Linked DNA regions of Homo sapiens. The protein of the gene in region 6 purifies or fractionates together with the protein of the main gene of each other region. This does not show direct contact. Each region holds a gene or a part of one and is shown on either strand. Other genes may lie near its edges.

Evidence for each region.
Region 1: the proteins of B3GNT3 (region 6) and POGLUT2 purify together in Homo sapiens (affinity purification with mass spectrometry; 2 studies listed by BioGRID and IntAct, with this or other methods). This does not show direct contact.
Region 2: the proteins of B3GNT3 (region 6) and SPG7 purify together in Homo sapiens (affinity purification with mass spectrometry; one large-scale study listed by BioGRID and IntAct). This does not show direct contact.
Region 3: the proteins of B3GNT3 (region 6) and CHID1 purify together in Homo sapiens (affinity purification with mass spectrometry; one large-scale study listed by BioGRID and IntAct). This does not show direct contact.
Region 4: the proteins of B3GNT3 (region 6) and DCAF6 purify together in Homo sapiens (affinity purification with mass spectrometry; one large-scale study listed by BioGRID and IntAct). This does not show direct contact.
Region 5: the proteins of B3GNT3 (region 6) and DSTYK purify together in Homo sapiens (affinity purification with mass spectrometry, with the first as the bait; one large-scale study listed by BioGRID). This does not show direct contact.
Region 7: the proteins of B3GNT3 (region 6) and HS6ST1 purify together in Homo sapiens (affinity purification with mass spectrometry; 3 studies listed by BioGRID and IntAct, with this or other methods). This does not show direct contact.

Annotation. Positions count from the first base shown.
Region 1 is NC_000013.11:102,788,977-102,792,476, forward strand, and holds part of POGLUT2 (protein O-glucosyltransferase 2 isoform 1 precursor), read right to left. Parts: intron 3,161-3,500; exon of another isoform or gene 3,033-3,160; coding exon of another isoform or gene 3,018-3,032; intron 2,455-3,017; coding exon 2,282-2,454; intron 2,163-2,281; coding exon 1,925-2,162; intron 246-1,924; coding exon 36-245; intron 1-35. UniProt on the Homo sapiens protein: Protein glucosyltransferase that catalyzes the transfer of glucose from UDP-glucose to a serine residue within the consensus sequence peptide C-X-N-T-X-G-S-F-X-C. Can also catalyze the transfer of xylose from UDP-xylose but less efficiently.
Region 2 is NC_000016.10:89,553,403-89,555,834, reverse strand, and holds part of SPG7 (mitochondrial inner membrane m-AAA protease component paraplegin isoform 1 precursor), read right to left. Parts: intron 2,042-2,432; coding exon 1,875-2,041; intron 1,350-1,874; coding exon 1,272-1,349; intron 1-1,271. UniProt on the Homo sapiens protein: Catalytic component of the m-AAA protease, a protease that plays a key role in proteostasis of inner mitochondrial membrane proteins, and which is essential for axonal and neuron development.
Region 3 is NC_000011.10:897,311-900,810, forward strand, and holds part of CHID1 (chitinase domain-containing protein 1 isoform a precursor), read right to left. Parts: intron 2,801-3,500; coding exon 2,694-2,800; intron 2,092-2,693; coding exon 2,030-2,091; intron 1-2,029.
Region 4 is NC_000001.11:168,048,183-168,051,682, reverse strand, and holds part of DCAF6 (DDB1- and CUL4-associated factor 6), read right to left. Parts: intron 792-3,500; coding exon 750-791; intron 1-749. UniProt on the Homo sapiens protein: Ligand-dependent coactivator of nuclear receptors. Enhance transcriptional activity of the nuclear receptors NR3C1 and AR. May function as a substrate receptor for CUL4-DDB1 E3 ubiquitin-protein ligase complex.
Region 5 is NC_000001.11:205,159,703-205,163,202, forward strand, and holds part of DSTYK (dual serine/threonine and tyrosine protein kinase), read right to left. Parts: intron 3,305-3,500; coding exon 3,221-3,304; intron 2,511-3,220; coding exon 2,334-2,510; intron 1,686-2,333; coding exon 1,556-1,685; intron 569-1,555; coding exon 412-568; intron 1-411. UniProt on the Homo sapiens protein: Acts as a positive regulator of ERK phosphorylation downstream of fibroblast growth factor-receptor activation. Involved in the regulation of both caspase-dependent apoptosis and caspase-independent cell death.
Region 6 is NC_000019.10:17,793,907-17,797,937, reverse strand, and holds the start of B3GNT3 (N-acetyllactosaminide beta-1,3-N-acetylglucosaminyltransferase 3), read right to left. Parts: upstream 2,801-4,031; 5' UTR 2,732-2,800; exon of another isoform or gene 23-2,731; intron 1-22. UniProt on the Homo sapiens protein: Beta-1,3-N-acetylglucosaminyltransferase involved in the synthesis of poly-N-acetyllactosamine. Has activity for type 2 oligosaccharides.
Region 7 is NC_000002.12:128,308,869-128,312,368, forward strand, and holds part of HS6ST1 (heparan-sulfate 6-O-sulfotransferase 1), read right to left. Parts: intron 1-3,500. UniProt on the Homo sapiens protein: 6-O-sulfation enzyme which catalyzes the transfer of sulfate from 3'-phosphoadenosine 5'-phosphosulfate (PAPS) to position 6 of the N-sulfoglucosamine residue (GlcNS) of heparan sulfate.

The DNA.
Region 1 (3,500 bases), on a different chromosome or scaffold from region 6:
AAGTGGAAATAAGCCTTCAAGGGGACTAACCTTACCTCTTCATCGTGATCTTTCGCCCATTTAAGTTTTTCTAGCAGATCGCTCAGGTTGCTCTTAACTGGAATGTAGTGTTTCCAGGGCTGCAGCTCATTGTAAAAATGTTCATAGTAGATGGAATCCTGCTTCAGCACAACACTGTCACCAACTAGCAAATATGGCAGGCGATAAGCTGCTACAGTGCCATCGATATTTATTTGATACTTATGCTGCAAAACAATGGTAAAGTCTAAGAACCTCTATTAAATCTCCTTTTCTCCACTCTATTCTCCTTCCCATCCCACACATAAACCTTTGCAATCCTCAGACACAATTTGGTCAGCTTCCACGCTCTGCCTTTGCCGTTTAGTAAGTGTTATTAAACAACAGGTTGATCTAGAGCTAAATGCTCATTTTGATGTGCTTCTCAATTTTACAAAGGATACAAATCTAGTGTTGAAGCAGCGAATACAATCATACTGCTGTCCTAAGGCTGCAACATAAGGAAGGATGGATTCATTTGTGACTTTTTGTAATTCTCCTGCTACTTTATTGATTGCAAATGTGCCCCTAATGATGGCATATTCTGAGCCATGTTAACCGTATTATTTATGTATTTATTTTGAGACAGAGTCTTGCTCTGTCACTCAGGCTGGAGTGTAGTGGCGTGATCTCAGCTCACTGCAACTTCCACCTCCTGGGATCAAGTGATTCTTGTGCCTCAGCATCCCCAGTCGCTGGCATTAGAGGCACGCACCACCACGCCCAGCTAATTTTTGTATTTTTAGTAGAGATGCGGTTTCACCATGTTGGCCAGGCTGGTCTCGAACCCTGGAACTCAGGTGATCTGCCTGCCTCAGCCTCCCAAAGTGCTAGGATTACAGGCGTGAGCCATCACGCCTGGCTAACCGTATTTTTTAAACACCCAGACATATGTCTTAAAGAAATTAGCAAGCTCTGGAGCAAGAACACCTATGAATAAAAATATTCATAGAACTGTGGTAATCTATCATCTTTAGTTGCAGAAAATTCAACAGGCAGGAATAAAGCCAAGGCAGGATGGAGCACCCCTCCACTGAGGAAGGTTGGCTAGTATCCTTTCACTTTGGTTATAATCATTTCTTTCAAAAATCTTTGGGATATGCATATAGAAAAATACTGACAATTCAACTTTAACATTGAACAAGGTTAACATTTAGGTCAACCTGCCTCAACAAAACCCATCAAAAGAAAATTTGGTCATCTACAGGGCAGACAGAACTCGTTAATCACTTGTCTTCCCACATACAGAGGACAGATGATGACCTTTTTCCCACCTCTCTCTCTACCATGGGGGACTTCAGAAACAACTCCATGGTCTAAAGAGCAGGGTGGTGCCCACTGCCTTATAAAAGGAGTTGTTAGAAAAAGGACTACTCCCCAGGAACCATGCGGAATCCACATTCTAGACAGAGAAAGCAAACCCTAATTCCCAGACAGAACATTTGGATGAGTTTCACGTCATTCCCCACCAGAAGGCCTGGTAAGAAACAAGTAGTTTATATCTTCCTTATTCTGTTGTGATAACATGGCTCTGGGAAAAAGTATTTGTAAAATGACTTACATGTAAGTATTAATAAAAACATATTTGGAGGTGACATGTGCTTATCTCAAGGGTTAGCTGGAAAAAAATTATAGCTCTATCCAGGCTCCAAACTCCCTTGATGCGCATTTAATATCAAGACTGGGCAGTGAGGGCAGACCCTGGTTGCCAAAACAGTCCCCAGCACCCCCATGTCTCAATATTCGCTCAATTTTGTGCTAACTTCTCCCACCTCTTGAAATTTGCAGGCCTTAATTTCCCTTCCCAAAGCACTATGTACAAATACATTAGAAAAACAAAAAAGATTAGCTACTGATTAAGTCATACCTTGAAGAAATCAAAAAATGAAATATGTTTCACAATGGGACCATACAGGTTTTCATCGTGTTTAAAGAAGAAAAAGTTGGTGAAAGCAGCGTCTATGAGTTCTGGGTGTTTTCTACTGAGTTTAACCAGCTCGAGTCTCTCTTTGCGGCTGTCTCGCCCTCTCCAGACGGCAGTGGAATTTTTGCTTTCCCAGGGAGGACCCGTGTTAGCTTGCACGGACATCATATCCAGACTTACCCTAGAAGACAAAGTGCAACAGATTTTCCTCCCAAATCATCATATCACAAAGGTTGTTGCAAAAGAACTCACCAAAGAAAGAAAACCAAGGCTCTGGGCCAACCCTGACTTATCTCTCACCGGCCCATGGTTTCCAGAACAGAATCAGTCAAATCGTACGTAGGCATCACGATATCCTTGGAATCTGTGGAGCCACACCAGGAAAAGATCGGATGGATGTTTGAATTGGATTTCTTTTTTTCCAAAGGCCAGTCTCCCAAATTAACAAAGAGCTCCACATCTGGCATCTTCACCTAGAAAAAACAAAACGAGGAGCTTATTCACATTTCCTGCATTGGATAATACATTGTATTTATCAATTTAAATTTGAAATTGCATTAATGAAAGGCCAATGTTACATGTTTCAGGTAATAATAATTACCTTGGTTTGAATAGTGGGCAATGTTTCAGAATATGGTCACATGTATAAGTATTCTATGCTCCCTATGAAAGGGATGAAACTGCAAAAGTAATCTCTGTTCTAATACTGCGAACAGCCTCTAAGATGATCAAAGAGAAGGAGAATTATTGGAAAATAATTTAAAAAATAGCACTTGGGACTCTAACCCTAGTTTCCTGCTAGTGAGCCAGATGGTTCCATTTTAAAAAACATACACCAGGTAGGTGGTGGGACCAGGATTTGAACTCAGGAAGCCCAACACCAACAGCAACGTAGTAAGTTTCAAGCTATGCTTCCTTCCTCTACTGGCAAATGGCATGAATATGTAAAGAGGATATGTTTTATCTAGTCACAGAAAATGTTTAGAGTATTTACAAAACAACAGATATACATTTTTAAGGCCAGAAAAGCACTGACCAGTCTGAGAAGCATCTTGAGAAACCGAAGTCCTGAAGAACATTCTCATTTTCCCATGGATTGACAAAGAGGAGCAAGAGAAGTATGACGGTACTCTGATGTCTTAGTTTAAAGGAGGCTTAATATTGATGCTATATAACTACCTACATTCAGAATTAACAGACTGTAAGTGCTTTGAAATCTTGAAAAAAAGGCATTATGATTTTCCATGAGTAGTTTAATCAAGATATACATGCAAATTATTCAACAAATAAATATAATAGATTACAAATAAATATACATTTGGTAAAAATGTTGGTAGAGTCTTTCACATCCACCATTTTAACATTACTTTCAAACCATTCCACTAGAACCCAACAAAAGCCCATTATCCCAAGGAATGGGATTCAGTACAAGGCAAGTCATCTTTGGACTCAGAGTTAGTTTAGTACCAAAATAATTTTATGATAAGGCATTTTTCTTTCCTCTATAAAATATTGTGTC
Region 2 (2,432 bases), on a different chromosome or scaffold from region 6:
ACTGCCTACCCATCTGTTCACAACATGGGACAAAGAGCCGTGCACCTCTCCTGAGTTCTAAGCAGCAGTTACCAAACCCAGGGACAAAAACGTTCACTCCAGCTCTGCCCACTGTGAGAAACACATCAGACAATCGCAACTGAGGAACGTCCTACAAAACATGAGACCAATCCTCAAAACTGCCAGAGCCCTCAAAACAAGGGAGGTCTGAGGAACTGTCACCCCAGAGGAGCCTAAGAAGATGGGCGATCAAACGCCATGTGGACTCCCAAGACCGGAAAGGACACTGGGGAGACTCAGCACATCTGAATCACGTGTGGACCCAACACCGCGGGTCGGCGGGGGCTCCTCAGGTGGGAGGACTGCCCCATGGGGGCCTCCACGGGAGCGAGGCAGGGTGGCAGGGAGCTCTCTGCACCGCGCCTGCAACTTTTCTACATCTAACACTATAATCAGCGTGGGGCTGTGGCTCACGCCTGTAATCCCAACACTTGGGGAGGCCGAGGCAGGCGGATCACCTGAGGTCAGGAGTTCAAGACCAGCCTGGCCAATGTGGTAAAACCCCACCTCTACTAAAAATACAAAAATTAGCTGGGCATGGTGACGCGTGCCTGTAATCCCAGACACTTGGGAGGCTGAGACAGGAGAATGCTTGAACTGGGGAGGTGGAGGTGGCAGTAAGCTGAGATTGCACCACTGCACTCCAGCCTCGTGACAGAGAGAGACTCCATCTCAAAAAAAAAAAAAAAAGAAAAGCCGAGTGTGTTGGTGCATGCCTGCAGTCGCAGCTACTCGGGAGGCTGAGGCAGGAGAATCACTGGAACCCGGGAGGCAGAGGTTGCAGTGAGCCAAGATGTCGCCATCGCACTCCAGCCTGGGTGACAGAGCAAGACTTTGTCTCAAAAAAAAAAAGAAAAAAAAATTCCTACTCTAAAATTAAAGCTTTGTTTTAAAAAAATGTTCAAGAAAAAAGTGTAAGACTTGGGAAAAGATTAAACAAAACTGACAAAACATTGGTAATTGCTAATGGCAGGAAGAGGCACAGGAGACTGTGGCAGCCTTCTTTCTACCTCGGGGGAACACACTTGACGAGTTCAGGATAAAAAGTATGGAACACGTAAGTTTCAGTTGAGCTGGGTAGAATTCACATCGGTCAGAGTGTTCTCTGTACTCTGTGTGCCTTGGAAATACTTCACGAGAGGGGTGGGGACCGTGGGTGCTGTGTGGACACTGTGTGACGCCGTAGCCCCCACGCCTGGCCAGGGCCTCACCGCCTGCAACTTGTCCAGGTTGTCCTGCAGCACCTTCTCGGTGTGTCTGTAGGCCTTGGCCACCAGCAGTCTTGCTTCCTGTGAGTGGAGGGAACTGTGTCAGGGGCAAGGCTGGCCGCCTGGCTCCAGCACCAAAGCACAGAAAAGAAATGGCAGACTGGGAACACGGCCTTTCCCCTCCCAGGAGGAACAGGACTCCTCAGCCGACAGGTGGTCTCCTGCCCCTGTGACCAGTGCCAGGAAAGCAGGGCTCCGCATGCCAGCCCACCCACCCACACCCACCCACAGCTGCCTCACAGGCACACATCGGCCCTTCCTGGCCCAGTCTGAAGGACATGTGGGCCCTGGGTCTATTGCTCGGTGTATTTATTTGATATTCTTCCCAGATTCACATCTATAATTTCATTAGGAGCATCTATGTCCTCATTTGAGAAGAAAATACTCCACAGGTGGGAACTACAGCAGAGCCCAGAAGGAAGAAACCCAGGTGGGGCCTGCAGCTGAGCTCCGCTGGGGCGGCCGTGGGCGACCCTTGTGTGGTAGACCCAGGGACTCCCTCCCCGGGGAGCACAGAGGGCAGCGGTGTGGCCAGAGCCGACTCACATGGTCCATCATCTGCTGCAGGCCTTGGCTGAAGGGGCGCCGCCCGATGCCCATGAGGCCCTCCTGCGCCTCAGGGAAGGAGATGGGCCCGATGCCAGGTGCCATCCCAAACTGCTTCACCATGGAGTAGGCGATGCGGGTGACCTTCCTCAGGTCGTCCTGTGCCCCTGGAGGGCGGGGTCGAGACAGAGGCATCCTCAGCACTGCAGGCGCAGAGCAGTGCTGGGCCCCAGGTGTCCCGGTCAGAGCACTGAGGCAGCACCACCTCCATCCCCTTCCTCCCGAGGACCCACCGTGAAGCTGGACAGTGAGGACGTTGGCACCTCACCACTGTTCCTTAAGAGAGTCTTAAAACTTTCCGAAATGCTCTTTTATTTGGAAATCTAGAACCCGGGGGCATACTGGAGCTCACTGCATGGCAGTTCTCAAGCACAAGCCCAGGCCTATGCGAGGCAAACCCATGGACCTGGAGCCCAGGGGCCCCCGGGACCCTCCTTCAGCTCTCTGGATATCCCAGTGCAGTAATGGCTTCAGAACAATGAAGCCGCTTCAATTTTA
Region 3 (3,500 bases), on a different chromosome or scaffold from region 6:
TCTCCTGAGGAGCCTCTGGTGCCATCTCACTGCCTACCTAATGCTCTGAAACGGAAATGAGTGTGGCAAATCTCTGGTTAATAGACCCACTCTCCCAGGATTAGTGAGAAGGCTGGAAGCAGGCGGGCTCTGTCTCCTGCTGAGACACCCCTCTCCTCAGAGGGTAATGGAAGGTCAGCCCCGGCAGGGTCCACTGCCCACGGCTCAGCAAGAACCCCCCAAGGCAGGGCCTGGGATTGTCCCTCAGCCAGGAACGCAGGCACCTGATCCTCCGGCAAAGCTGGGGCCCCTCAGAGGCTGTGCAGACGACAGGCTCCCCATAGCCTTGCGGACATCCTTACCCCCACTGCAGTGCGCCTCCCAGCCTCCCTTCACACAGCTCCTTGTCTTCCTGCTGCTGCCAGGCCTCCCAGGAGGGAAGCAGACAGAGGAGCCTCTTGGACACATCCGGTGGGGGGCACACTGAGGGGTGCTGGCTGAGGGAGTGGGGTCTGGGCACCAGGATCCAGTGGGCAACCACATTGAGGGGTGCTGGCGGAGGGTGTGGGGATCTGGGCACCAGGATCCAGTGGGGAACCACACTGAGGGGTGCTGGCGGAGGGTGTGGGGGTCTGGACACCAGGAAACAGGACTCCAGGGCTCTTCTGGAGCCGGGGCCTGGGAGCAGTTCCGGGAAGAGCCTTGGACTGCTGCCTCCCAGCCAGTGAGTCCCTCAGAGCACAGTGGGAGGAGCGGCAGGGCTGCAGAGGCTGGAGCCACTCACAGGGGCAGGGCCTGTACCGGCTCCAGGCTGAGGGTCCTCTGAGCCCCTGGGCAGGAATCCTGCCCTACCCCTCATGGGCTCTGCCTCAACAATGTCCCTTCCCTCCCTCAAGCTTAAGATCTGTGTGGGGACGCTGCCCCAGGTGGGCAGAGCCTGGACCTGCAGCTCCTTTGCCCACAGCAGCAATGGGATGAAAGTGCCATGGCTGCTGCAGGGGACACCATGCAGCCTGAGCTCAGGCCCGGGCTCTTAAAGCCCAACCAGAACTACTTCAGGTGGTGGGGGCGGGGGAGCCGATTCCAGAACCCACGGCTCACACAGAAGGCTGAAGGGCTGGACAGCTGCCATAGGGCTCTGCTGTCCAGGCACCCGCGGTGGAGACCGCACCATCCTCGCTCGTTGCAACCAGTGGAGTGAGAGGAGTCCACCTGTCCTGAGCATGTCGAGGACGCCCCCTACCAACATCCTGGGGAGCAGTACTGTCCCCCTGCTATCTTTTGCGGGGCAGTCGCCCACTTTGGCAGAACAGGGAAGGTAGCTGTTTCGGTGAGTTGGCAGGGCTGCTTGGGCAGGACCAAGGAAGGGCCATTCCTCAGGGCTGTGGTCAGTCCAGTCCAGGCCAGGTGGGGGAGCCATGGCACTTCCTATCACTCCCTCCGTTCCTGGTCATGTGGCCCACAGGGAGTGGGAACCCGCGAGGGTCATGGGTGGGCTGGGCTCTGATGTGGCAAAAGGAGGCGTGAGGGAGTGCTGTGGCCGCCTCCCGGTGGAGTGGACTGCTACAAAGCCTGGGGGCCTGGGAGGCATTCCCCAGAGGCCGCCATGGCGGTCCACACCACGGGTCCTGGCCGTGCTCAGGGACACCCCCAGGAAGGCTCCCCGAAGCTCAGTGAGGAGTTTCTGCTTGTGTCCAAGCTCAACCTGCTGTCACCATCTGGGCCATCTTTCTCTTGCCAAGACCTCATGAATGAGGGTCCTCGAGTTCCTCTGACCGCCCAAGGGAGGCATCAGGCCTGGCGCAGCAATGCGCTCGGAGCCGGCTGCCTGCCACAGGCTGCTTCCACTTTTCTGTTCGGAGCCGGCTGCCTGCCACAGGCTGCTTCCACTTCTCTGAGCAGGTGTCCATCTTTTGTGCAGCCCCGTCCCCACCCCAGGCACAGGGACTGTGGAAGGAAGGCCCTCCCCAAACCCCTGGTCTTTCCTCCAGCCTCCTTCAAACACCAGGGCCAGGAGGAGGGCCACCCACCACCACCTGTGCCCACTCACACGCGCTTCTGGCTTAGCAGCTGGTTCCAGACCTCCACCACGAAGCCATCGAAATGCTGGTTCTGAAAGAAGCAGTCACAGGTGAGGAGGGCCTGGAGGCCCAGGAGGGATGGGTGGAAAGACAAGAAGCCCGCCACCTCGGCCCACATGGTCAGGTTGTGGCCTGGTCACTCACGAGGCAAGACCCAAGCCTGGGCTGTATGCCCAGAAGGGCCTGTCTGAAGGAGGAAGTGTGGGGGTCCCAGAGGAACAGGAGTGGAGGGGCCAGTGGTCTCGTGCATTCTGCCGACCCATGCACCTCCCCCAACCCCACCCCGGGGGTCTGGGGGCTCCCTGACCCGAGGCCCAGGCATACTGGCAGCCAGCAGGGCTGGGTCCCCTCCCAGGAGGGTAGCAGGCAGCTGGGCTTTGCCCAAGGGAAGAACCCTGGCCCAGCAGACAGGTCTCCCATGCCTGGGACCTCCAGAGGACCCATGGTCAAGAAAGCGAGCAGCAGCCTGAGCCTGGCTGATGCTGCCTTCCCTGGAAGATGGGGGCTGCACCAGAAGGTGCCCAGGGCAGAAGACAGAAAAGCCGAGTGGAGGCCTCGCGGGAGGCCCAGCCAGACGGCCAGGTGGGACCCGGGGGGCTGTGCTCAGAGGCTGGAGCAGCACACAGGTCTCACCTTTGCCACCTGGACCACGGTCTTGCTCAGCTCCTCTATCTCATCCTCACTGTCTAAGACGTTCCGGAAATCATCGTAAGTCCAGTCCTCAAACAGGAGCCGAGGCACTGCAGGGGCAACAGACACACACGGGGGCCGTGACTGGGAGATGCTGGAGGGCCCCTGCTGTTTGCTGCCTCAAAAAGGCATCCCCTTGGCCTCCAGAGGGAAGTGAGACCAGACAGTGAGGGGCAGGGAGGCCACCTGGAGCACCCACATGTCCAGAGAGGATGTCCCAGAGCCTCACAGGCTGGAGAGGGAGGGGTGGTGGGGAAGGAGCGAGCAGACACTGACAGTCCTGGTCCCCTGACACCAGCTCCCCACACGGCTCAGCATGGTTGTGGCCCCACCTTACAGGAGGGAGGCTGGGACAGACTCTGGCTGCTCCAGCTCAGCCCTGTCACCTGCTTCTAGCATCCCCCAGAGTCTCTCCCTTGGCAACTTGTGCTCTTAATCCACTGCCTCTGAGGCTGCTACTGGACGTGGGGACACATGTCCCCCCTTCCCCAGCCGTGAGCTACAGGGGCACAGATGGGCCAGGGTCAGCATCACCCTCAGGCCAAGCCCAGGGCTTGGCCCCAGCTGCCCTGATAGGACTCATCATGTGAATGAAGGAAGAAATGGGATTGAGAACAATTAGGGCAATGCCACTGGCCAAGGAGGTGCTGGCTTTGGAGGGCCACAGCCTGTGTGGGGAGGAGAGCTCAGGACTCCAGCCAGACTAAGGGCTGTGAATGCCAGGCCAGGGCCAGCCTCATCTCTGAGCGG
Region 4 (3,500 bases), on a different chromosome or scaffold from region 6:
TGACTTCTGTATTTTTCATTAGGAACTCTACAAACTTTACATTTCTGATTGTTGCTATATGTTTCATGTTCAACTGTTTTAGAAACTGATGGTAAATAACAGATATATGCCTCTAGAGTTAAGTACAAGGTTGATTTTGTCAGCAAAACAGGTTTTCAGTAGGTGACTGATGTCATTGAGGTTCACTTTAAAGATCTACTCAAAAATATGTCCCAAATAGAGAAGTGCTTGAGGCTTATATATCATCTTGATATGTGACACTATTTCTAAACTATTTATAAGGAAACAACTTTCTTGCAAAAATCAGAAACCTATACACAGATTTAGATTCAAGTACATTTTTAGTTATTGAGCTCAAGGAAAAGGAGCATATACGAATAACAAAAAGTTGGTAATTGTTATCCCAATCAAATTTAAAAAACATAAATTGCATTCTTCAACAAAATATCCAAAAAGAGTAACTGATACTTAAAGTACATCATTTCAGATTATAGTTACTTTGCCATATGACATATTTGAAGTGAACATCAGTCTGCACACAGGAAATTTCTTTTCATTCTATCCCCATGCAGTGCATGCAGCTAAATATAGTTTGTGGAAAGCGACCTGCTTTACAATGCTTAGCACTTAGAATTCAGTAAGTCCAAAGGGAGTATTAACTGTTAATAGGAAAGGTGGTTAGCTGTGGCAAAAGAAGACCTGGCAAATCCATCATAAAAAAAAAATTATGAAGGAACATACTGAATTACCTCATTATTCTATCACCTATTGTTGTTCCTCTGATATTAAATCTAGTGAAGGGAACACAATAACTGAAATCACTTACAAAGACTTCAAAGAACCAAATATTTAAAGCATTAAGGACACCCTTTTTATCATCAATCATCTCAATTTAAAAAAAAACTTTTGTTTCCCTTTGTGACTTCGGGCATTAAGCAAGGAATATGTCAGTCAACTAAATGTATATGAAGAAATTAAGGAAACAGAAACACTCATTGAAGCTAGAATAGAAGGAAGACATTGCACTTAATCCCTTTTATCTTTTAAATAAATCAGAACCCAATCCTGTCACAGTATGGGAAACTGCACTGGCTTATAATGAATACCATCCTCTGGAACACGTACATGCTCCTCAAAGCTGAGGAGCTCTTTGGAAAATAAATAATTAAGCCCTAAGCTAATTCACTTGGCCTAACCACAAGACTATATAACAAATGAGCAAAGAATAACAGGGCTTTTAACTCCCTAGGAGTCCAGTTCTTTCTCTTTGAGTACATCTTTTCTCTCTGCAATTTTCTTTAATAAAGAGTAAACTGCAATAATGAGAAATAAGGAAATCATGGTTACAATGATGACTGAATAAATGCTGCCAAATTTACAGTACAAGGAATTTTGGCTTTAAAAGTGAGGGCTATGCTCCATGGTCCAGAGTAGGTATATGGAACCAAATTTCTATGAAAATAACACTTTAAAAGTTATTAAAGGGCAATATAGGATAAATCACTCTTTAGGGAAAAAATTGTTAGATCATCCTAACTGAGGCTATAATTAAAAACTATTCAAGACTATGTGAGGACTTATTCAGGAAGCTTTCTTAGATGCTTGTTTTTTTTTTTCAGAGAGTAATTTAGGTTTTCTCTTGAGTTTAGAAACAGTAAGAGCTACCAATCAGGCCGTCAAATCACTTACAACAGATTTGGCATTGTAAAAAAAAAAAAAAATTATACAGCCTGGGTGCGGTGGCTCATGCCGGTAATCCCAGCACTTTGGGAGGCTGAGGCAGGCGGATCACGAGGTCAGGAGATCGAGATCATCCTGGCTAACACGGTGAAACCCCGTATCTACTAAAAATACAAAAAATTAGCTGGGCGTGGTGGCAGGCGCCTGTAGTCCCAGCTACTTGGGAGGCTGAGGCAGGAGAATGGCGTGAACCTGGGAGGCAGAGCTTGCAGTGAGCCAAGATTGCCCCACTGCACTCCAGCCTGGGTGAGGGAGCGAGACTCCGTCTCCAAAAAAAAAAAAAAAAAAAAAAAAAATTATATGCAGATTATCTAAACAGAGATCTCAACCACACTCTTTTCATTCCAAGGGCATATATTTACGTTTCTTAACCCAGTATATGGCCAGGCGCGGTGGCTCACGCCTATAGTCCCCCAGCACTTTGGGAGGCTGAGGCTTGAGGCCAGGAGTTCAAGACCAGCCTGGTCAACATAGTGAGACTGTCTCTTCTAAAAAAAAAAAAAAAAAAAAACAACAACAACAACAACAACAAATTAGCAGAGTGCAGCAACATGCACCTGTAATCCCAGCTACTTGGGAGACTGAGGGAGGAAGATCGCTTGAGCCCAGGAGTATGAGGTTGCAGTGAGCTATGATCATACCACTGCACTCCAGCCTGGGCAACAGGGCAAGACCCTGTCTCAAAAAAATAAAACAAAATGAAATAAATACAGTATATAAAATCACTAAAAGATACACATACTATTTTTTTGCTTTGTTTTGCTTTTTTCCTAAGTCAGACTTATTTTTGACATTAGGACTAATTTTATTTTTTTAAACACCATGATTAGAGAACAAACATTTCTTTCTGTCTTTTTTCAATTTATTTCCCATTTACTGTTCCATGTTCTTGCCTTACGCAAAGTTAAAGGGAACCCAAATATGTGGAGATTCATATTATTTCATTGTTTCAAAGTCTGGATTTTTGCCAGTAGAGGCATTTTACCACAGACTATAGTTTGATTTCTCTCTATAACACTGATTACTATAGAGCAGGTATTTGCAAGCTATGGCTCTTGGGCTAGATCTCCGCCAAATGCCGATTTTTGAAATGAACCTTAGGCTAAGAATAGTTTTTACATTTTTAAATGTTAATATTTTAAATGGTCATATAAGTACCTACCATAATGGTCTCCATTTTGTCTCCTGGCCAACAAAGCCAAAATATTTACTATATGGCTCTTTAGGAGTAAGTCTGCTGCTCTGCTATAGACTCCCAGTTACATTTACATAGACTTGCTGTAGTTAATGAGAAGAGCATTCCATTTAAAAATATCTATGTTAGTTGTTAAGGTCTTCATTTTCTAAGACATTTCCTTCTCATGCTTGATCTCAGCCCAAAAGTGAAAACCTGGGTCATTTATTTAACCAAATTATAAGAATGTAAATATTTTTTTAAAAATCATTACTCTGTATTGCAAGGAACTGTTCTGATATTTTCAGTAAATTTGTCAGAAATGACTTAGCTATAAAGCCTTTTAAAGTTTCCTTTTAAAAATTAAATTTGGAACAAAAACTGATGAGGTCCACTATATAGTTCTTCATATAAAGTACAGATCAAATTAAGTATACACTTGTATAATATTTAATTTTAGGACCACTTCTCTACCCCAGCTAAACTAATATTGACTGGGCTTTGCAAATGGCAGCATGGAGGGAACTTTAAGACATACATCCTTTTAGGTGGGCATTTCATCCATGTGTGCAATGTATCCTTGGAC
Region 5 (3,500 bases), on a different chromosome or scaffold from region 6:
GGCTACAAGGCTTGGGCTCTAATCCTGCATGCCATGCCACAATGTATGAGACAATAATTTCCAGACCATGCTTAGGACAGGTCCAGAGGTAATGGCCCTCAGTGCAGACAGAGCCCTCAGTACAGACAGAGCATGGCCTCTTCAACAAGGATGAAGAATCCTGGATTCTAAAAACTGATAAGGCTTAAGGACTAAAGAAGAAAGTTAAATGGAATGATGAGTCTGAGAAATTAGGATGGTGGGGAAAGAGCAAGCAAAGACAGTAAAGGCCTGAAAGGGAGCACATGTCTGTTAGACACAGAAAACTAAATATAGAGAGGCCATGCTGTAGCTCTTGGTACAAAATCTAAACCAGGGTTCTAGATTCTTCTCTGGATCTTTCTCATAGAGATGAATGAGGCCAGGACCCACCTCATATAGTGAAATTCCAAAGCCAGATCATTCCAGTGCTTCTCATCTGGAGGGACAACTGATTTGAGGGCACAAGGGAAGTGTCCTCCCCAGTTGTCACACAGGTATACCACACCATACTGGCCCCGGCCCAGTTCCTGTCCCAGTTTAGGTTTACCTATAAGGTACAGAGACAGAGATAAGGCAGGAGGAATGGGAACTTCGTGGGCAACCTCTGTAAGATTCTTTTTTTTTTTTTTTGAGACAGAGTCTTGTTCTGTCACCCAAGCAGGAGTGCAGTGGCATGATCTCTGCTCACTGCAACCTCTGCCTCCTGGGTTCAAGCGATTATTCTGCCTCAGGCTCCCAAGTAGTTGGGATTACAGGCATACGCCACCACGCACAGCTAATTTTTACAGTTTTATTAGAGACGGGGTTTTGCCACATTGCCCAGGGTGGTCCCGAACTCCTGGGCTCAAGTGATCCACCCACCGTGGCCTCCCAAAGTACTGGGATTACAGGCATAAGCCACCATGCTGGCCCTGTAACATTCTTCATTGTGAACCTGCCTTTAGGGTCAGGAAGCTGTAATCAAGCCCAGGGATAAAATTCTAGTGTCATTCTAACCCAATAGAAAATAATCTAACTGGTTTAATTCAAATAAACTGTGGTTATGTGGTTTTTTGTTTTTTGTTGTTTTTTTTTTTGGAGACAGAGTCTTGCTCTGTCACCCAGGCTGCAGTGCAGTGGTATGATCTTGGCTCACTGCAACCTCTACTTCCTGGGTTCAAGTGAATCTTCTGCCTGAGCCTCCTGAGGAGCTGGGGTTGCAAAGTGCCACCACGCCCAGCTAATTTTTTTAGTAGAGATGGGGTCTTGCCATATCGCCTAGGCTGGTCTTGAACTTCTGAGCTCAGGCAGTCCACCCACCTCAGCCTCCCAAAGTACTAAGATTACAGGTGTGAGCCACCACACCTGGCCTGGTCATGTTATTTGAACTATATAAATAGCAGGAAGAGACTTTAGGAATTCAAAAACATCAGTAAGGGTTTAGGCAGCTTTGCAAAGAAGCAGCTTTAGACACTAGGATTCTCTGAGGCTGGACATAAGAATGTCAGGTATCCTGAACCATCCTCCAGTTTATCTAGAAGAAAACCAGACTCACGATGAAGCAAGACATCCTGTAAAGAACAGCTTTCCAGAGAAAGGCGGGCCAGGCGGGGAGCATGATCTTTCCGAACCCTCAGCCATAGATCTTCCGTTTTCTCTAACCGGCCTGAGTGGCCAGCTTCCAGCTGGGAGAGAAACAGAAAAAGTACATATGACTTAAGTCCCTAGCTTCAGCTTCCTCACCTGTTATACAGGGATAATAATATCTACTTCATATAGATAATTGTGAGAATTAAACAAGATACATGTAACATGTTTAGCACAGAGACTGGCACAGAGTAGACTCTCAATAAATAATAACTTTTCCTCCTGGATGCATACTCACATCTATCCACTCTCTGCCTGGACACACCCACTCCCCGCCAGTGGACAATCAGATGTCAAACAATTATGAAATATAGAAGTTGGAAAGTCATGTCCTTCTGTCATTTGTTCCTAAAATACTATATAAACATACAAAATTCCTACTCCTATTATCTTTCCTCACTCTGAAATGGGCAGGAATTAACTGAGCTCACTCCATTCTCCCGAGAGTTAGGAAAATATCCACATGAAAAATTTATTGAAAAAACTTCCTATAACAATCTAGAAAGAAAATATACTGATGATTTTAATATACATATGTGTGTGTGTGTATATATATGTGTATATATATGTATACACACACAGACACACACACATATTATATATGAAGAGCGGAGAGCGAAATATTCCCATCTGGATGAGGCTCTTCTCTGCTTGATCCAGCTGTATCTCCTTTCCTACATACCAACCTGCCGCAAGGAGGCTGCAAAAGCCTCGTGGGAACTATTGAGCCGAGTCCGGAATTGGCTGCAAATGCTCTTAGCCAATTTGGAGGCGCTGAGGCTCTCAATGGCTTCCTGGGCCACCTTCCTCTTCCATTCCAGAGTGATGGCAGGTGGGCTCACCCATGTGATGCGCTGGATGATCTACCAGGATGAAGACAGCGAGATCACCAAGGAATGAGAGACAAGAACCACTACAAAGATCCAGTGTCCTTCCTTTTCTGGGTTACCCATTCATTAAGAGCAGGCTCATAAGATGGGAGCCATACGAAGTCCAAAGTTCCTTTCCAATTCCATCTACCACAAAATCAGGTCCTAGCCCAGAGAAAAGCATCAAAGAACACCAGGCCTAGTCTACATGCTCACAAACCCTCAATATATTACATTCAGTGCCAGGGAGTGCCTGATAATCTTTCTGAAGTCAGTAAATAACTCTACATAAGAGCCAGATCAAATTCCAGAACAGAAACCACATTCACAGCCTCTGGCAACAACAAAGCCTAGTTCTGAGAAAAGATTTAGGCTGGGAAAAAGAAATATGAAGAAGCTAGTGTGGTAGAGTCTTATGGCTCCATGAAATATCATTTATCTTTTTTTTCTATTTTTCCATTGTCCACAAAGAGCACCCAACATAAAAATCATTTAAACCCAAAACTTCTGAGAGTTCAAGGGAACAATGTTAATAATTATTTAAGAATAGGCATAAACCAGAATTCTCCCAGGCAGGCAAACCAGAACAAATGGTCACCCTGCCTTAACAGAAGATCCTAGATATCTGTTTCCTACTGGGGTCACTATGATTCATTTGAGCCAACTAGGGGCTTTGAAATCTTTCTCTAAGTAATAATCCCTACCTGTTTGATTTGCTCCCATAGCATCCTTGTAACTGACGACCCTGAGTGAAACGTGACTTCAACATGATAGGCAGCATTTAAGATCTGAAAGAGACAACGCCAAAGAAAACATGTCCTCAGTAGTGTGGCTATTTTAAAAATGCAATAAATGATACTTATTTCAAGAACACAGTCCAGACTCAGGGTTTCCAAACTTACCCCTCAATATATATGCAGAGTCAACTTAAGCTGATTATTTATTTTGTGACTATCTAGCCCCTTCTACCTCATCTTTATATTC
Region 6 (4,031 bases):
GTGGTTCCTCACCAGTTCTTACCAGTTTGGGTTTCCCAGTAATGATAGGCTGGTCCCTTTTTACAAGGAGCAGGAGTTGCTTTTGCAAACAGAAGGGGAAGAAAAGAAGAAGAAATAGCCCAGTAAATCCTTTAAGTTCACAATGGCCGGACCCTGCTTTAGTGAAACCATGTGTACTAGTGAGTTCTCTGTCAATATATACTCAATATCTGCACCAGGGAGTGCCTGGGTATGGAAAAAGGGGTGGGGTTGGGCACGGTGACACATGCACTTTAGACTTTGGTGTCCCGGGTTTCTAGGTCCCGAGGCTCTGTCATGGATGACTAATTGTATGTCATCCATGCCAGCCCTACCCCATTGCAGGAACTGCCTGGGGCACCTATGTGAGACTGGAAAGGGGCCCCTGAATAACACCAGCCCTGGCCCAGTGGAGTCTCAAAGGGCATCTTTGGGCTCACTCCATAGATGGGGAAACAGGCTGGGAAGCCAGGCCGTGCATCGCAGTTCAACCTCAGACCCTTCCCACAATCCAGGAGTGATGGGGGAACTGAGGTCTCCTGGGCCCCTCCTCTGGGGACTTCCTGGACCCCCACACCTTCAGGCTGGTCAGAGCTCTTCTCCAAGTCTTGTACTTAGAGCTCAGAAATATTCATGATATTATTTCTGTGTGCAAAGATACATGCTATAAATGATAACATAATGAGCTGCATAATTAGGACTAGGATCAATATGCCAGGTCCTGTGTGCAGCCTGGCCACCATCTGTCCATCTAAACTCTATATGTGTGCTGAGAAGTAGGGCTGCATTAGCTCCATTTTTATGGATAGGAAAATTGAGGCACAGAGAGGCCTAGAAATCCACCTAAGAAAGGTTGGGTGGGAGCCTAGTTCCTGTCTTTAACTCCCAGCTGATGAGATTTCCTTTAGTTTGCCACGTTGGTAGTGACCTCACCATCATGAGGAGCAATCAAGGCAAGCCAGATTCCCACCAGGAAGAGGGTCCACAATAGGCATCCTCCCTGGCTCATGGGGTTGGGGGAGTGAGCAAATTCCTGCTTGCTCTGGGCCTCAGAGGCTGGTGGCAGGAGGAAATGTCACTCAGTGAGCCCTTACTTGCTCCTCCTGGGCTGACCTGGCTTGTCTGGATTCCTGAACTCTGGCCTGGAACAGAGAAGCACCAAGGCCCCCTTTTGGTTCTCCCACACCCAGAGCACCTGCCAGGAAATGCCACACCCTAGGGGTGAGAGTGAGGGAGGGTGTCCAGGCTGGACTGAGCAAACACCCAACTGCTCACCTAGGCCATATGGGGGCCCAGCTGCCTGACCTGGGGGCCACACCTCTTCCTCCTGACACCAGCCCTGCCTGGTGTCACCTTGAGAACAGGCCAGTGGGAGGAAGTGATGGCCCCCAGGGCTGGCCCCAGACCTAGACGGCCAGGTGGCTTCCCATGGGCCCTGAATCCCAGATCTGGACTGCAGGAGTCCCCCGCCCAAGTTGAGGGGCGACCTCAGTTTCCTCTTGAGAAGTGTCCATTTAAAAAAATCAGAGCTGGGCATAGTGGCTCATGCCTGAAATCCCAGCACTTTCAGATGCCAAGGCAGGAGGATTGCTTGGGCCCAGGAGTTTGAGACCAGCCTGGACAACATAGTGAGACCCCGTCTCCACACACAAAAAAATTTTAAAATTAGCTGCCTGTGGTGTGCACCTGTAGTCCCAGCTACTCGGGAGGCTGAGGTGGGAGGATCACTTGAGCCCAGGAGGTTGAGGCTGCAGTGAATACAGTGCATGGAGCCACTGTACTCCAGCCTGGGTGACAAAGTGAGTCCCCCACCTCTACAAATAAAACAAACAAACAAAAAGTTTAAATCTGACCCAGAGGAAAAGATGGTCGGGATTCTTGGAACAGGAGTGAATCTGAACAGTGGCTACAGACATAATTAATATAATTATGATGACAGCTGACTGTCCCTGGGCACCCACTGAGTGGCCACAGCTCCTATCCACTCAACTCATCCTCGCCAAGGTCCCATGCCATGAGACCCCCCCTTAACACACAGGGAAACTGAGGCTCAGAGACCTAACGCCAGTCACGCAAGGGCCCCCAGTGGCCAGCAGTACACCTCATCACAAAAATTTCCTTTGACTAAACGCTTCGGGCATCCTCATCCCAGCTGGTTCATTGTTCCACCTCACGGAGGGGAAACTGAGGCCGGTTCAGCAATGTGTCCATGCCACGCAGCCAGGGCCCCTGGAATGCCGCCCAGCCACCTGGCAGGGCCTGCAGCACCGGAACCGCAGGGAGAGACTGGGGGTCACCTGCAGTTCCCAAACCCAACCGGGGACCCCAGCGCTGGCTTGCCCAGATACTCCCAACCAAGGGGCCAATAATCTCAACAACACAGGTAACAGTAACAGCCAAGTCTGACTAAGCGGCATCCGCCTCGGGGGTCTGATCCCGCCCAATCTGGGAGGGGCGCCGGGGTCCCGGGTCGCCAGCTGTGGGGGAGGCTTCCTCCCCGACCCAGGTCCGAGCTGGCCTTGGGAACGCCGGAGACAATTACGGATGGGTGAGGGCAACCGGGTTCTCGAGACTCGGGGCTCCCGAATGTTCCCACATCTGCAGGGTATGCGCGGTGGAGACCGGCAGGGGCTTCTCCAGAGCCACAACTTCCCCACCCCCAAACCCCCACCACTGGGGTCCGCCAGATCCTCCGGGGGCTGCCGACACTCACCCCCAGACGACAGTCCCGCCTCTGCCCCTCTACCTGCTCCTCTCAGCTCGCGAGCCGAAGAAAGAGTTTTTACCTGAGCCAGAGCTCCCGCCCCTCTCCCGCTTCCTCCCTCCCACCGGGCCTCACGCCTTCCTGCCTCCCTCCGCCTTGGCCGCTTGCCAGTCCCCCTCTTCCCAGCTCGGCTGAGTTTCCTGGTGGCCCAGGCGAAGTTCTCTGCCGGCTCCTCCCTCCCCGGCCATGCCTCTTCCCCTCTCCGGTCCCGGCTGCCACCTCTGCCATCCCGCTCTTGCCACCCTCGCCCCTCTCGGGGCTCACGACCCCACCTTGGGTCTGGCCCGCTGCTAGGGAATGAGCTCCCCGTGGCTGGAGATGAACAAGCAGCGCCTTGCGGGTTCCTGGCACAGAGCCCGGTCAGCGTTGGCCCACGTGTGTTCCGTGAAGAAATGATTGGATAAGCCCATGGCGATAAGGAGGGAGGGAGGCAGGTTAAACCTTGCGGCACCTCTGCTCTCTGCGGGGAGTTCAAAGATTCCTGAAGCTGGGGTCGGCGCAGTGGCTCACTCCTGTACTTCCAGAGGCCGAGGGGGGCGGATCGCTGGAACCCAGGAGTTTGAGACCAGCCTGGGCAACATAGTGAGATTCCATCTCTATATTGAAAATAATTCCAGGACCCGAAAACCTACGATGTGCCCCCAGACATCCAGATGCCACCTGCTGGCATTTGGAAGGGTTCTGGAAGTCAACAATCAGACAGATTTGTAGTCTTTTCTTTTTCTTTTTTTCTTGTTTTGAGAGACAGGATCTCGCTTTGTCACCCAGGCTAGAGTACAGTGGTGTGATCTCCGCTCGCTACAATGTCGACCTCCCCAGTTCAAGCAATCCTCCCACCTCAGCCTCCCGAGTAGCTGGGACTACAGGCACCCGCCAGCATGCCTGGCTAATTTTTGTCATTTTTCTAGATATGGGGTTTTGATATGTTGCCCAGGCTGGTCTTAACTGTGGGCCTCAAGTGACCTTCCTGCCTCAGATCCCCAAGGTGCTGGATTATAGATGTGAGCCACTGCACCTGGCCTCAGATTTGTAGATTTTTAGGGTTGGGTTGGCTAGGATTCGAACCCTGCCCTGTGCTGCCTCTGAATCTCTAGGAGATTCTAGCCTGGACCCAGCGTTGGGAGCTCTGGGGTTGGGGAAGTCCAGGTGTGTGAGCTGGGCTATGGTTTCAGGAAACCCCTCCTTCCTCCTTCATCCCTGTTTCTTCCCGAGGAGGAAGCCGAGGTGTATATGTGGCCTGTCTGTGCCT
Region 7 (3,500 bases), on a different chromosome or scaffold from region 6:
CTTCCTAGCTGGCTCTGGAGGTCTCTTCCCTGTCTCCAGGACAGATGGGTCAGATTCTAGCCTCTTATAGTACAGAGGCCACAGTGGAACTGTGGGTATAATTCCAACTGTCTACCTCCTGCACAGGCACTATGAGTATGCCCATTTTACAGATGGGGAACCTGAGCTGCAGAAGCCTGTGAGATGCAAAGCCAGGATTTGGCCCAGCTGGTCTGACTGCAAGCCTGGGGCCTCTCTTTTGCTCTGCTGACACCCCTGGTATGGTCCCGGGGTTTCCCAGCCCCGAGGTGGGTCTTGGCCAGCCTCACCTGCCCTCCTTGTTGCTGGGTTACCCATAGAACCTTCTGTCCTAGTTTGCTGTGGAGGGTGAAGGATAGTGTGGAGCTTACAGAGTGAACTCTCATCTCCTACCACTCCGTGAGGTGGGAAAAGAAAATGAGGTTGAATGTTCCCAACTTCTCCAGGCAGGAATGGGGCCAGAGCTAGAATGCAAACTGGGCTGGCCCCAGAGATGTCCACCTGATACAGCTTCTGAGCAGCGGCCTGGGCTGACCAGTGGAGAGCCCCTCCTAGGGAACAGCTGGGATCCTGGACAAGGACCAGGCCTGCCCCAGCAGGAGGCCCTGTCACAGGGAGATAACAGGCCCCTGCCCCTGCCCATGACCACCGGGGGCGGTCACCCACGGCCACTGACCTCTGTGGCCTTCAAAGCTTCGTAAACAATTAACTCCAGAGTTTCAATCTCTCCAGTTTGTATCTTTCCAGACAATTAGTGATTTGCTCTGATGGCCCTCCTGTTGGGCCTTTTAACGTTCTCTGTGTAAATAATCCTAGGCAGCTGTGCTGGTCACGTGTGGCCTTCAAAGGCAGGCCAGGTGCAGGCTGTCGGGAGCTGCCTCTCACTGAAGCCCTGGCCCCGCGGTCAGTCTCCCCATGGCACGCGGACAGCTGCTGACGGCTCGCTCTCCAGATGAGGAACTGGGCCTGCACTAGGCTGCAGAATGCTAAGGGGTTATGAGTGGCCATGGCTCCCATAAGACATGGACACAGTCCGTGGCTGAGGGATCATGCGGTCACCACGGTCACAGTTAATAAGTCACTGGTTCCTCTACAGAACCAAATGGCAGACTGCCACCCCCCTTTTAGAGATGGGAAGACTGAGGCTCAGACAGGTATCTATCTGGGCCCATGAGACCCACCGGCTCCAGCCACAAGGTAGGAGGGGCTGCCCAGGGCACTCCTCTCTTCCTTGGACTCCCAGCAGAGCTTTCCAGAAGCCCACCCAACACACAGCCCAGGGCCTGAGCAGGCAGCTGAATCCCTATGGATTCCCTGCCCTCCACCGCAGCCTCAGCGCCTGGTCTGCACAGAGAGGACCCAAGACCTCCCGAGGTGGCCCCGTGGAACTTGCGGCGTGTCACCCCCACAGGCATCCCCCCGCAGTGAGCTGGGCCCCAGCCCCAGCCCCAGACCACACGCTGTGTGAGTCAAGGAATCAAGGACCAACAGTGGGGTAGGTGTGAGGCCCCAAAGGTCCTGAGCCCTAGAGGGAGTTCAGGGCAGAGGCACCGCGGCAGCAGAAGGCCACAAGCTGGTGGGGACAGGTGCAAATCCTTAGCGCAGCTCCCAGCACCCACAGAGCTGGCTCAGGAGCAACTGGTGGCATGGAGGGGGAGAGCTGTCCTGGATGGTTTTTGCTCCATGGTCAAGGAAAACAGCCCCATCTTCACCACGGCTGGGGTAGGATGTGTGTGGTCTCTGGTGGCTGGACATCCTCCCTCTGCCCACCTGTGGATCCTAAATGTCCTCTAACAGCCTCCACCCTGGGTTGGGTGGTCTGGGATCAGCACTTGAACACTCCTGTGTGGGCGTGTACCTGCCATGTTTTTCCAAAACAACATCCCTTGCAAGCTGGGGACTTGGGACAATGCCCTATCAGGAAAGGGGCACTTTCAGGAAAGGAACAAAGAGATTAGGCCACAAGTCCCACAGTCAGAAAGCAACTGGCCTGCTTGCAGGGGCCCCTCTCCACTCATGCCGTCCCATCTCCACTGCCCCCCCTTGCTGTGAGTGGCGGGGTCTCGCATGATGTGTCTGAAACCCAACTGTGCTTTCTGAGTGCTGCTTCCACTCCACACCCCGCTCATCCTGCAAAACCCTGTGTGTGGGAGGCTTTTCCACTCCCTCAGGGCACTGCAGCCCACACCTCTGGCTACCACCAGCTCACTGTCATTTGGCTGGAGCAACCTCATCCCCTAGGTCTAGGACTATTTTTTTCAGCATAACATACCCCACCCAAACCCAAAACAGACAGCAAATCTTCACAGAGCCAACTGAGTTTCTGAGAAGGCAAGAACAGTCTTAAGAGATGAAAACCTTCTTGCAAACAAAATGTCACCTCACCTATAAATACTGCTGTGGAGTGGGCCTCAAGGAGAGGAGAGCAGGTGCCAGTGAGTGTCCAGGTGGCTGCAGAGAAGTGCCCGAAAAGTGCTGGCAGGGGATGGCCCGAGTCTGCCTCCCGCCTGAATCATGCAGCCCTTCCAGTGGGGCTCCCATCTGACTGGGCCCCACATGCTACCACTCAGTAACTGCTCCCCAGAGCTCGGCTTCTCATGCTCTTCCCGCCTCAAACCCAAAGACCCACCACACGCTACCACCAAGTGGGGATTGAGCCCAGTCCTGCTGCCTCCGTGATGCTTGAGGTCTGACCTAGAAACACCCCACAGTCTTTCATAGAGGGGGTATGCAGCCCCACAAAATGCCACATGGGATGGTGATGGCACCCAGAGAGGGAAGCTGAGGGGTTGGGGAGACTCCTGGGTTTCCCATCTCCTCACCCTCCAGCATTCACTGGGGCAGAGCAAGGACACTGGAGCAGAGGGATGGCCTAGACCCACCTGCACCCACACAGGCTCACAGCACTGCCTCCTGCAGGGCTGATCCTCCCTGGGCCGGTGGTGGCATCGGTGGTGCAGGACCAGAGGAGTACCTGAAAACAGCCCAATCTTATGGGGGAGGTGGCAGAAGGGGTGGCCACACTGCGCCAGGAGCCAAGCACCGCCATGGGCAGTCTCTGCTGCCAGGGGCCGACTCTCAGGCAGCCTTGCCAGCACTACCTTTGCAGAGCCCAGAGCCCAGGCATGATGCCTGTCCTTCTGCTCTGAGTGAAGGCTGCCAGGTGTCTTCCAGTAAACGCAACGACACAGGCCTACATGTGAAACTGCCCATGTCTGCCCAGGTCTCAGAAGCCCTAGTGTTCTACATCTGGCTGGTCTGGGCCAGCGGCAATCGCCCCCACCTGCAGACAGCCTTCCATGCGCATGCAGGGGTTGCTGGGAGCAGAGGGCTGGGTGCGGCATACAGCCTTCAGGACAGACAGACAGATGTCCACATGCTAGCTCCTGGCCCTCCAGGCTGAGGGACTGACACATTCTCCACCTTCTCTGGGGCCTGACTTCCTTGTGTGGAAAATGGGGCTGCTCTTCATATACTTGTCT